Linked DNA regions of Homo sapiens. The protein of the gene in region 1 purifies or fractionates together with the protein of each later gene. This does not show direct contact. Each region holds a gene or a part of one and is shown on either strand. Other genes may lie near its edges.

What was found. Proteins that work in one complex are often made in the same cells at the same time.
Region 2: the proteins of NUMA1 (region 1) and EPB41L3 purify together in Homo sapiens (affinity purification with mass spectrometry; 3 studies listed by BioGRID and IntAct, with this or other methods). This does not show direct contact.

The regions. Positions count from the first base shown.
Region 1 is NC_000011.10:72,017,928-72,021,677, forward strand, and holds part of NUMA1 (nuclear mitotic apparatus protein 1), read right to left. Parts: intron 3,365-3,750; coding exon 3,277-3,364; intron 2,993-3,276; exon of another isoform or gene 2,399-2,992; intron 1,691-2,398; coding exon 1,567-1,690; intron 1,083-1,566; exon of another isoform or gene 1,054-1,082; coding exon 896-1,053; intron 587-895; coding exon 469-586; intron 374-468; coding exon 256-373; exon of another isoform or gene 1-255. UniProt on the Homo sapiens protein: Microtubule (MT)-binding protein that plays a role in the formation and maintenance of the spindle poles and the alignement and the segregation of chromosomes during mitotic cell division.
Region 2 is NC_000018.10:5,425,316-5,429,065, reverse strand, and holds part of EPB41L3 (band 4.1-like protein 3), read left to right. Parts: intron 1-600; coding exon 601-753; intron 754-3,750. UniProt on the Homo sapiens protein: Tumor suppressor that inhibits cell proliferation and promotes apoptosis. Modulates the activity of protein arginine N-methyltransferases, including PRMT3 and PRMT5.

The DNA.
Region 1 (3,750 bases):
CCTGCCAACCCTCTACAAACCAATCACAGCCATCACACCTCTAATTCAGAACTACAAATCAACATTTAGGGTCACAGCCCAGTACCCGGGAAGCCGCCAATTATGGGATAAGGAAAGGGGCAAAATATGCAGGTCTCTGGAGAGACTGAAGCATAAGACAGGTGCTGGGACATTCTTCTCAACCCTCTCTTGGGGAGCCTTCCAGACCACCTCAGCCCTGAGGGGCCTCCATGCACACACCACCTTAACACCCACCTTAAAGGAAAGGTCTCCATTCTCCTCCGAAAGCTGGTTGATTTTGCGATCCATCTGGCTCTTCTCTGTCTTCAGGTCCTGGCACTGCTTCAGGGTTTCATGCAGCCGCATGGTAAGGCTGCGAGGGAGGGAAGCAGTGAGAAGAGAGTATGGGTTCCTGGCTGGGTGAGGGGAGGGGCTGGGGCCTGGGAAGGAATGCAGGGAGAGCTGTACCTCTCATTCTTGTCACGCAGCTCCTCAAGCTCCTTGGGCTCCAGTGGGCTGGCCGCCTGCTTCTCATTCAGCAGGGCTAGGCGGTCAATGCGCTGCTGCATCATGGCTATCTGTGCATCTGCCCAGAGTGGAGGGAGGAGGAGAGGAGAATCAGAACTATGTGCATGAGCGGAACTATGTGCACAGAACTATGTGCACAAGGGGAAGGGAGGAGACGGCATAGGGAAGAGGAGGAATATGGTATCCAATCTAAGGGAAAGAGAAGATGGGGACAAAGACAGAACCTAGCTTCCAGGAGGTCAGCCTGACCACAGGCCCAGGGCTGAGCTCTCAGCTCCAGGGGCCAGCAGAGGGGACAACATGGGAGGCCAGGGGACATCCTTCCGGCAAGTCTATTCACACATCTGCCAGTGTGCCAGCCACCTACCCTTCTCGGTGAGGAGCTTGCGGTTCTCAGCTAGCTCCAGCTCCAGCTCATCCCTATTACTTCTCTCATCAGCAAGCTGCTTCTTCAGCCGTCTCATCTGGAACTGTGGGGTCTGCAGGATATCACCCATGGGAGAAGCTGGAGAACCTGAGAGAAAGCTGAGGAGGGAGAAGGCCCATATGCATTGGTAAGCGCCTAAGATCTGAAGCAATCAGCAACAGGCAGCAGTAAGGGAGCGGGGTCTATGGAAGTGCGCACTAGCAGCTGGGAGGCCTGTGCACCTGGGTTGTTTGCAGTGCTACCTCAAGCCTCATGACATGATCTTGGGAAAACTTTTCTTCTCACTGCCTTAATTTCTTTGTCAGAAAAAAAAAAAGTGATATATTCTCCTTGGCTCTGCAGAGATGTGCTAAGAGAAGAGACTTCATTGTAGTCTCCGAGGAAGAAGGGTATTCCATAAACAGGGAACAGCTTTTGAGGGAGGCCTTCTGCACATGACAAATCCCAACCACTTCCCCCAGTTAATACTGGGTGAGGTGAGGAGATCCCAGATCTACCGGATACTCTAAGCACTCCCAGAGGCTGGTTAACATCTTAACTCTAGAAGTTAGGAATGTGAGGAATGGATGGATGCTGAGGCCCTATCCCAGGAGGAGAGGCCCAGAACATACTTGTTCCCACTGGAAGAGGAGGCAACCTTCTGTAGCTCTAGGAAGCGAATCTCCCTCTTGGCCTGGTGGCTAGGTGGGGAGAGCTCTTCAGGGAATGTGCTAGAACAGGTAGAAGGCACAGGAGCTGGGGGTAAGAAATAGACAAAATAAATCAACAAAGGTTAGTAAGAAGGTGTAAAGATTTGCACCTTTATGCAATTTGAGAACTCGCCTTAGTGGGAGTATATCCATGGATACTTATATGTAAACTACCAAGGAAGGCACTGGGCAGAACCTGAAACCTGGTGCCTGGGTTATCCAGAGTTCCGTGTCTCTAACCAAAATGAAGTGCAGGGCTTCCATTTCTACAGAGCATCATTACTCAGAGCACAGTGGAGTGACGGTGTCCTCTGGCTCAGAAACTGCACCAAGTGCTCAAGCTTTTTCCTCGAGTCCACACTGCAGAGACGGCTTGGGGAGCCCTGAGCAGGATCTCCTTGCAGCCCCCAACAACCTTTCCTATCAGAGCCATTGGCCACCATTTGGAATTCATCCCCCCTGAAGCCTTGCACCTCCAAAATGCCCTCCTCCTCAAAACCCTTCTCTTTCCGTGGTTTCCGTGACCCCTTTTGTAGGACTCTCCTACCTCTAATCACCCATTCTTAAGTCTCCTCATCTGCTCCTCCCTCCTCTACCCACCCTCTAAGCTCCCAGAGATCTGATGGGGCCTCTTGGCTCTGCCCATAGTGCCCACGGCTTCAGTGGCCATCCAATGCTGACTTGCAAACCTATCTTCTGGTCCAGAGCCTGCTCCTGAATTCTGGACTCACATTTCTAACATCTCCACCTGAAGGTCTCATGAGGAACCTGAATACAAGGAACATCAAACTCAACGGCTAGAACTCGCCTAGACCTCCTTCTTACATTCCTATCATCCACCAGCTGACCTCTTCATCAGAAGACCAGCAGAACGATCACTCTTTCTACTGTAGTACCAGCCGAGGCCATTGATATATTCCGTACTTAGATTCCTTATCATTATTTCCTGGTTTATGTATCTGCCTTTCCACCTAGAACATGCACTACATGACGGGAAAAACATTTTTTAAAAGACTGTGGGCCGGGCGCAGTGGCTCATGCCTGTATTCCTAACACTTTGGGAGGCCGAGGCAGGTGGATCACCTGATGTCAGGAGTTCGAGACCAGCCTAATCAACATGGTGAAACCCCGTCTCTACAAAAAATACAAAAATTAGCCAGGTGTGGTGGCATGCGCCTGTAATCCCAGCTACTCGGGAGGCTAAGCAGGAGAATTGCTTGAACACGGGAAGTGGAGATTGCAGTGAGCTGAGATCGCACCACTACACTCCAGCCTGGGCGACAGAGAGAGACTCTGTCTCAAAAAAAAATAAAAATAAAAATAAAAAGACTGTATTCTCAGCTTCTAAGCCTAGAGTAATGATTGTTTAAAAAATAAAAAACAAAAGTAGGTATGATCACTTGTAAATATCCTACATAACTGCTGCCAGGCAGCAAGGAGGAGCTCCATAGGAACTGAGATGATACAACATGGCCCAGAAATCGACCTACTCCATTACACACACTTTTCCTGAGCATCAACTCTGCCTTGTGTTGGGGACAGAAACAAACCCCCACCATACTTGACAACTCAGGATCCTAGTATTCCCCATTTCAGAGATGAGGGGATTCTCAGGAGTGTGTACCTACTTACCTTTCTGTAGGAAGTTCTCTAGGTCCTCATTAAGGTTTAGCCCGTCCTCATGGTCCAGCACAAATTTAAGAATGACAGCCAACTCAGCCTGGGCCACAGGGAGAAAAAGAGCATCACTTAGGTGTTAGGCCTCTGAAGGGATGGCTGCCAGGAGCTCCACCCTGGCAGTGCCAGTCCCCGGCTCCCTCATGCCCTAGGAGCCTGCTGGATCCCATTCTCCCTCTCAGAGCTGAGGTCCTATGACCCAGCCAACAACATTCAACTAGAGATATGTTCACCCCACTTGTCCCCTTCCCTCCCACCTCCCCTCAAGATGTACCGAAGTCAGAGTTCCTGACTGACTTAACTCCTGACCACAAGTGAAGTGACTGTTAAGGAAAGTAACACAATCAGAAAGTTGCTTTTATTGTTATTGTTGTTAAGAAACAAGATCTTGCTCTGTCACCCAGGCTGGAGTACAGTGGCACAATCATA
Region 2 (3,750 bases), on another chromosome or scaffold:
CTATTTCGTATTTAAATTTTACTCTGACAATAATGGTATATAAAAAATATCGGGGCTCTTTTTAAAGGAACAACAACCAAAACCCTCATAGGAAAAGACAGGGTCCATCTTGTTAGCATACGTGTTGGTTAAGAGTGCTGCCTCTGGAACCAGGCTGTGTTCAGCTGGAACTCTGTACCTATTTTCTCATCTGTAAAATGGGAATAATAATAGTGACCATCTCAATTACAGTGAATATTAAAAGAGTTAATATATGTAAAGCAGAGCAGTGCCTGGCAATTGACAAGTGAGAACTGTGGCTACTATTATTACCGTTATTAACATACCTTCATGAGCTGGGCCCTCTTGGTGTGCAGTATTTACTTTGTAAGTCTGAGACACCTGGGAGAGCAGATTTTATTCTAACAAACCTCTCCATAGTGATAAACATCTTCACCAAAAGGCTAATGTTTAATGGTAATGTTTTAAAAATGGCTGCATCATTTTGCATAAGTAAACCAGCCATTTATAGTTTCTGTCGTGGATGCTTAAATACTTTACCCAGCAGAAAATGGAAATAAGTTAGATACTGATCTGTTGTTTCTTGCTTTTATTTTCCAGGACTCAGAAGGGGTAGAAATTATGTTAGGAGTTTGTGCAAGTGGTCTGTTGATATATCGCGACCGGCTGCGAATAAACAGATTTGCCTGGCCCAAGGTTCTAAAGATTTCATACAAACGGAACAACTTTTACATTAAGATCCGGCCGGGAGAGGTAAGTATACCCACATTTGCCTGTGCGTTGGGAGGAAAGATCCCTGATAGCAAGCAAGCATTTAAATTATCTGCTTATGAGTTCTGAGCATTGTGGGACACAGTGAATGACATCTAAGTGCCTGAGAGAGTTTATTGTAGGTTTGCCCAATAAACAGTAATAAATATTCTCTTCTTTATTATATTGTTCCAATATTTCCTACTGCATACGTTAATTGGAGGGTTTTTAAAAACATATTTTAATATAAAATCCAGTCTCGGCCGGGTGCGGTGGCTCACGCCTATAATCCCAGCACTTTGGGAGGCCGGGGGCGGGGTGGGGGCGTGGATCACAAGGTCAGGAGATCGAGACCATCCTGGCTAACACGGTGAAATGCCATCTCTACTAAATATACAAAAAATTAGCCGGGCGTAGTGGCAGGTGCCTATATTCCCAGCTACTCGGGAGGCTGAGGCAGGAGAATGGCGTGAACCCAGGGGGCGGAGCTTGCAGTGAGCCGAGATCGTGCCACTGCACTCCAGCCTGAGCAACAGAGCGAGACTCCGTCTCAAAAAAAAAAAAATTCCAGTATCATTAATAATTTTGTGTATATTTCAAGCAGTAATGGATAAATCTCTTCCTCCACATGCTGTTGTTATTTCTCCATGCTCTTTCTGTTTGTCCTGCAAATCTGGTTGTACTTTAAAGTGAACAGTTTAGAGGTCCTGTACTTCAAGGTACAAGGAATATTAGAACAAAGGACAATTAGTGTGAATTATATCAATGTTCTATAGCTCAATATATGTTTGTTTGTTTGTTTGTTTGTTTTAAGTCAGAGAAGCTAATGAGACAATCAGAATTGTTAACTAGTCCTTACTCCTTGGACAACAGCCTCCATGATCAACTTACGTTTATATCTTCCTTAGTGGTTTGTACATAATAGTAACACATATCTACTCTTATTTACTTAAGAGATAGTTAATAAATACCTCAAATTTCTAATTGGTATGGTTAGTATAACAGAGGCAGTCAAAGCTCAAAGATTCTAGCATACTTATATCTCTGAACATTTTCTGATATGATATAGAATTATCTCTTATCTTCAAAATCTACTTCTCTACTGGAGTTTCTTGGTGGAAAATGCAATTTAAAAAATCAGAATATCGGCTGGGCATGGTGTCTCATGCCTGTAATCCCAGAACTTTGGGAGGCCAAGGGTGGGAGAATCACCTGGGCCCAAGGATTTAAGGCTGCAGTGAGTTTGATCACACCACTGTACCCCAGCCTGGGTGACAGAGCAAAGACCCTGTCTCAAAAATAACAAAAAAATTGAAACATAAAGCATGTAATGATGTTTAGTATGAACATAACATCATACCTATCTATGATAACTGAAATAATCTGTAAGCTTTTCATGTAAATAACTAAAATTATAGTGTTTTAAAAATATTTCCTAAAGATTGTATATTAAACTTATAGCCAATAGATAGTCATTTGACTTCATTGAACATTTGTTAAGTGAGCACCTATTTATTGTCAGACATTAGAAATCTAAAGACAAATATGACCTTGTTCCTTGTTAAGGGATTTTCTATTTAGCAGAAAAACGGACTCATATACTTTGATTGTAACAGCATGATGCAAATGAGATGATATTCTGTAGACATGGAGTGAGCATAGTATTGTGAGATGCCAGAGGGGAGAGCTAGAGAAATGAATCAGTGGACAACTAGTAAGTCATGGGAGGTTTTAAATCAGGATGTGACACAACTAGGTGAATATTTTGGAATGATACATTTCTTAATGAAATTCAACGACTTAGAAACATGATGTGATAAGACCTAAACTAGGGCAGAGGCTGTGGGAATAGACGGGAGGGAACAAATGCAAGAGAGAGGTTTCAGAGGCAGAAGCAGCAGGTCGTAGAGACAGGATAGAGGAAGTAATTAAAAGAGGGAAAAGTCCAGGATAATCAAAGGTTTTCAGTTTGCATGATTGAAGCCAATGGAGATGACATTCGGCAGGAGGGAAAAGGGGGAAAATTTCAGAAAAACAACTGAAATCCCTTTGAAACAGATTTTCAGGGAGTAACTCTTGCATAGGAAGGAGTTGAACAGAGTTATCAACTGTATATATTTTATTCAAGGCCTTAGACATGGAATAAATTACTCAAAGAGCAAGGCAAGTTAGAGAAAGAAAAGGCCCAAAACTAGAACTCTGGATAATACCACTATTTGAGAAAGGGCCAAGGAGCTGAAGAAATGACAGCCAGAGAAATAAAAGAAGAAACAGGCTGATGGATGACCAGGAGATGAGTTTCAGAGGAAAGTGGTTAGCTAGCAGTATCATATGTTACAGAAAGGGCACGCAGGATGTGGACTAACAAAAGTGTGTTGAACTTAACAGTCAGGCCCCATGATGACATTTCAGAGTTCAGAAGGGCAACAGGAGCACCTGCCAGGTGTGTTGAGGTCAGGAGTAGGTAGCAGAGGCAGCAGGTCGTGGCTTCTGCTTCCTAAAGTTTAGCAGTGAGGAGTGAGATGGGGTTGTGGTGCTGGCATAAGCAGGCTCAGAGAGAGCTGGTTTTTCACTCCTCTTCTCTCTGCTTTTACAATCCTATTTACAGCCTGAGAAAAGTGAGTGAGAAGAAATTGGAGACACACAGACTCTGAAGAAGTTGAAAGAAATTGATATAAAACACAGAGAAATAGATATTAATAAACTATTAATACCTATTCAGGTAGTCTAGGAGCCTGCATCATCCTTGCCTACAGAGGTTGGCAGAGACTCTTCCCAGCTTCTTGCAGCAGAGTGCAAGCTGACTCTTCCATATAACCCCTGGCATTGGCGTAATATGTGCATATTAGTTGCAGGATGAATAAATGGATGATGATTTAGTCACAAGCCACACTATGTCTGTCTTGGCTGAGTCCCTTAGACAGTAGTGATTTTTACAAACACCACTGCACATGAACATCCAGAGTGAATAAGAAGTTGGGAAAGGCAATTGCGGTTGAA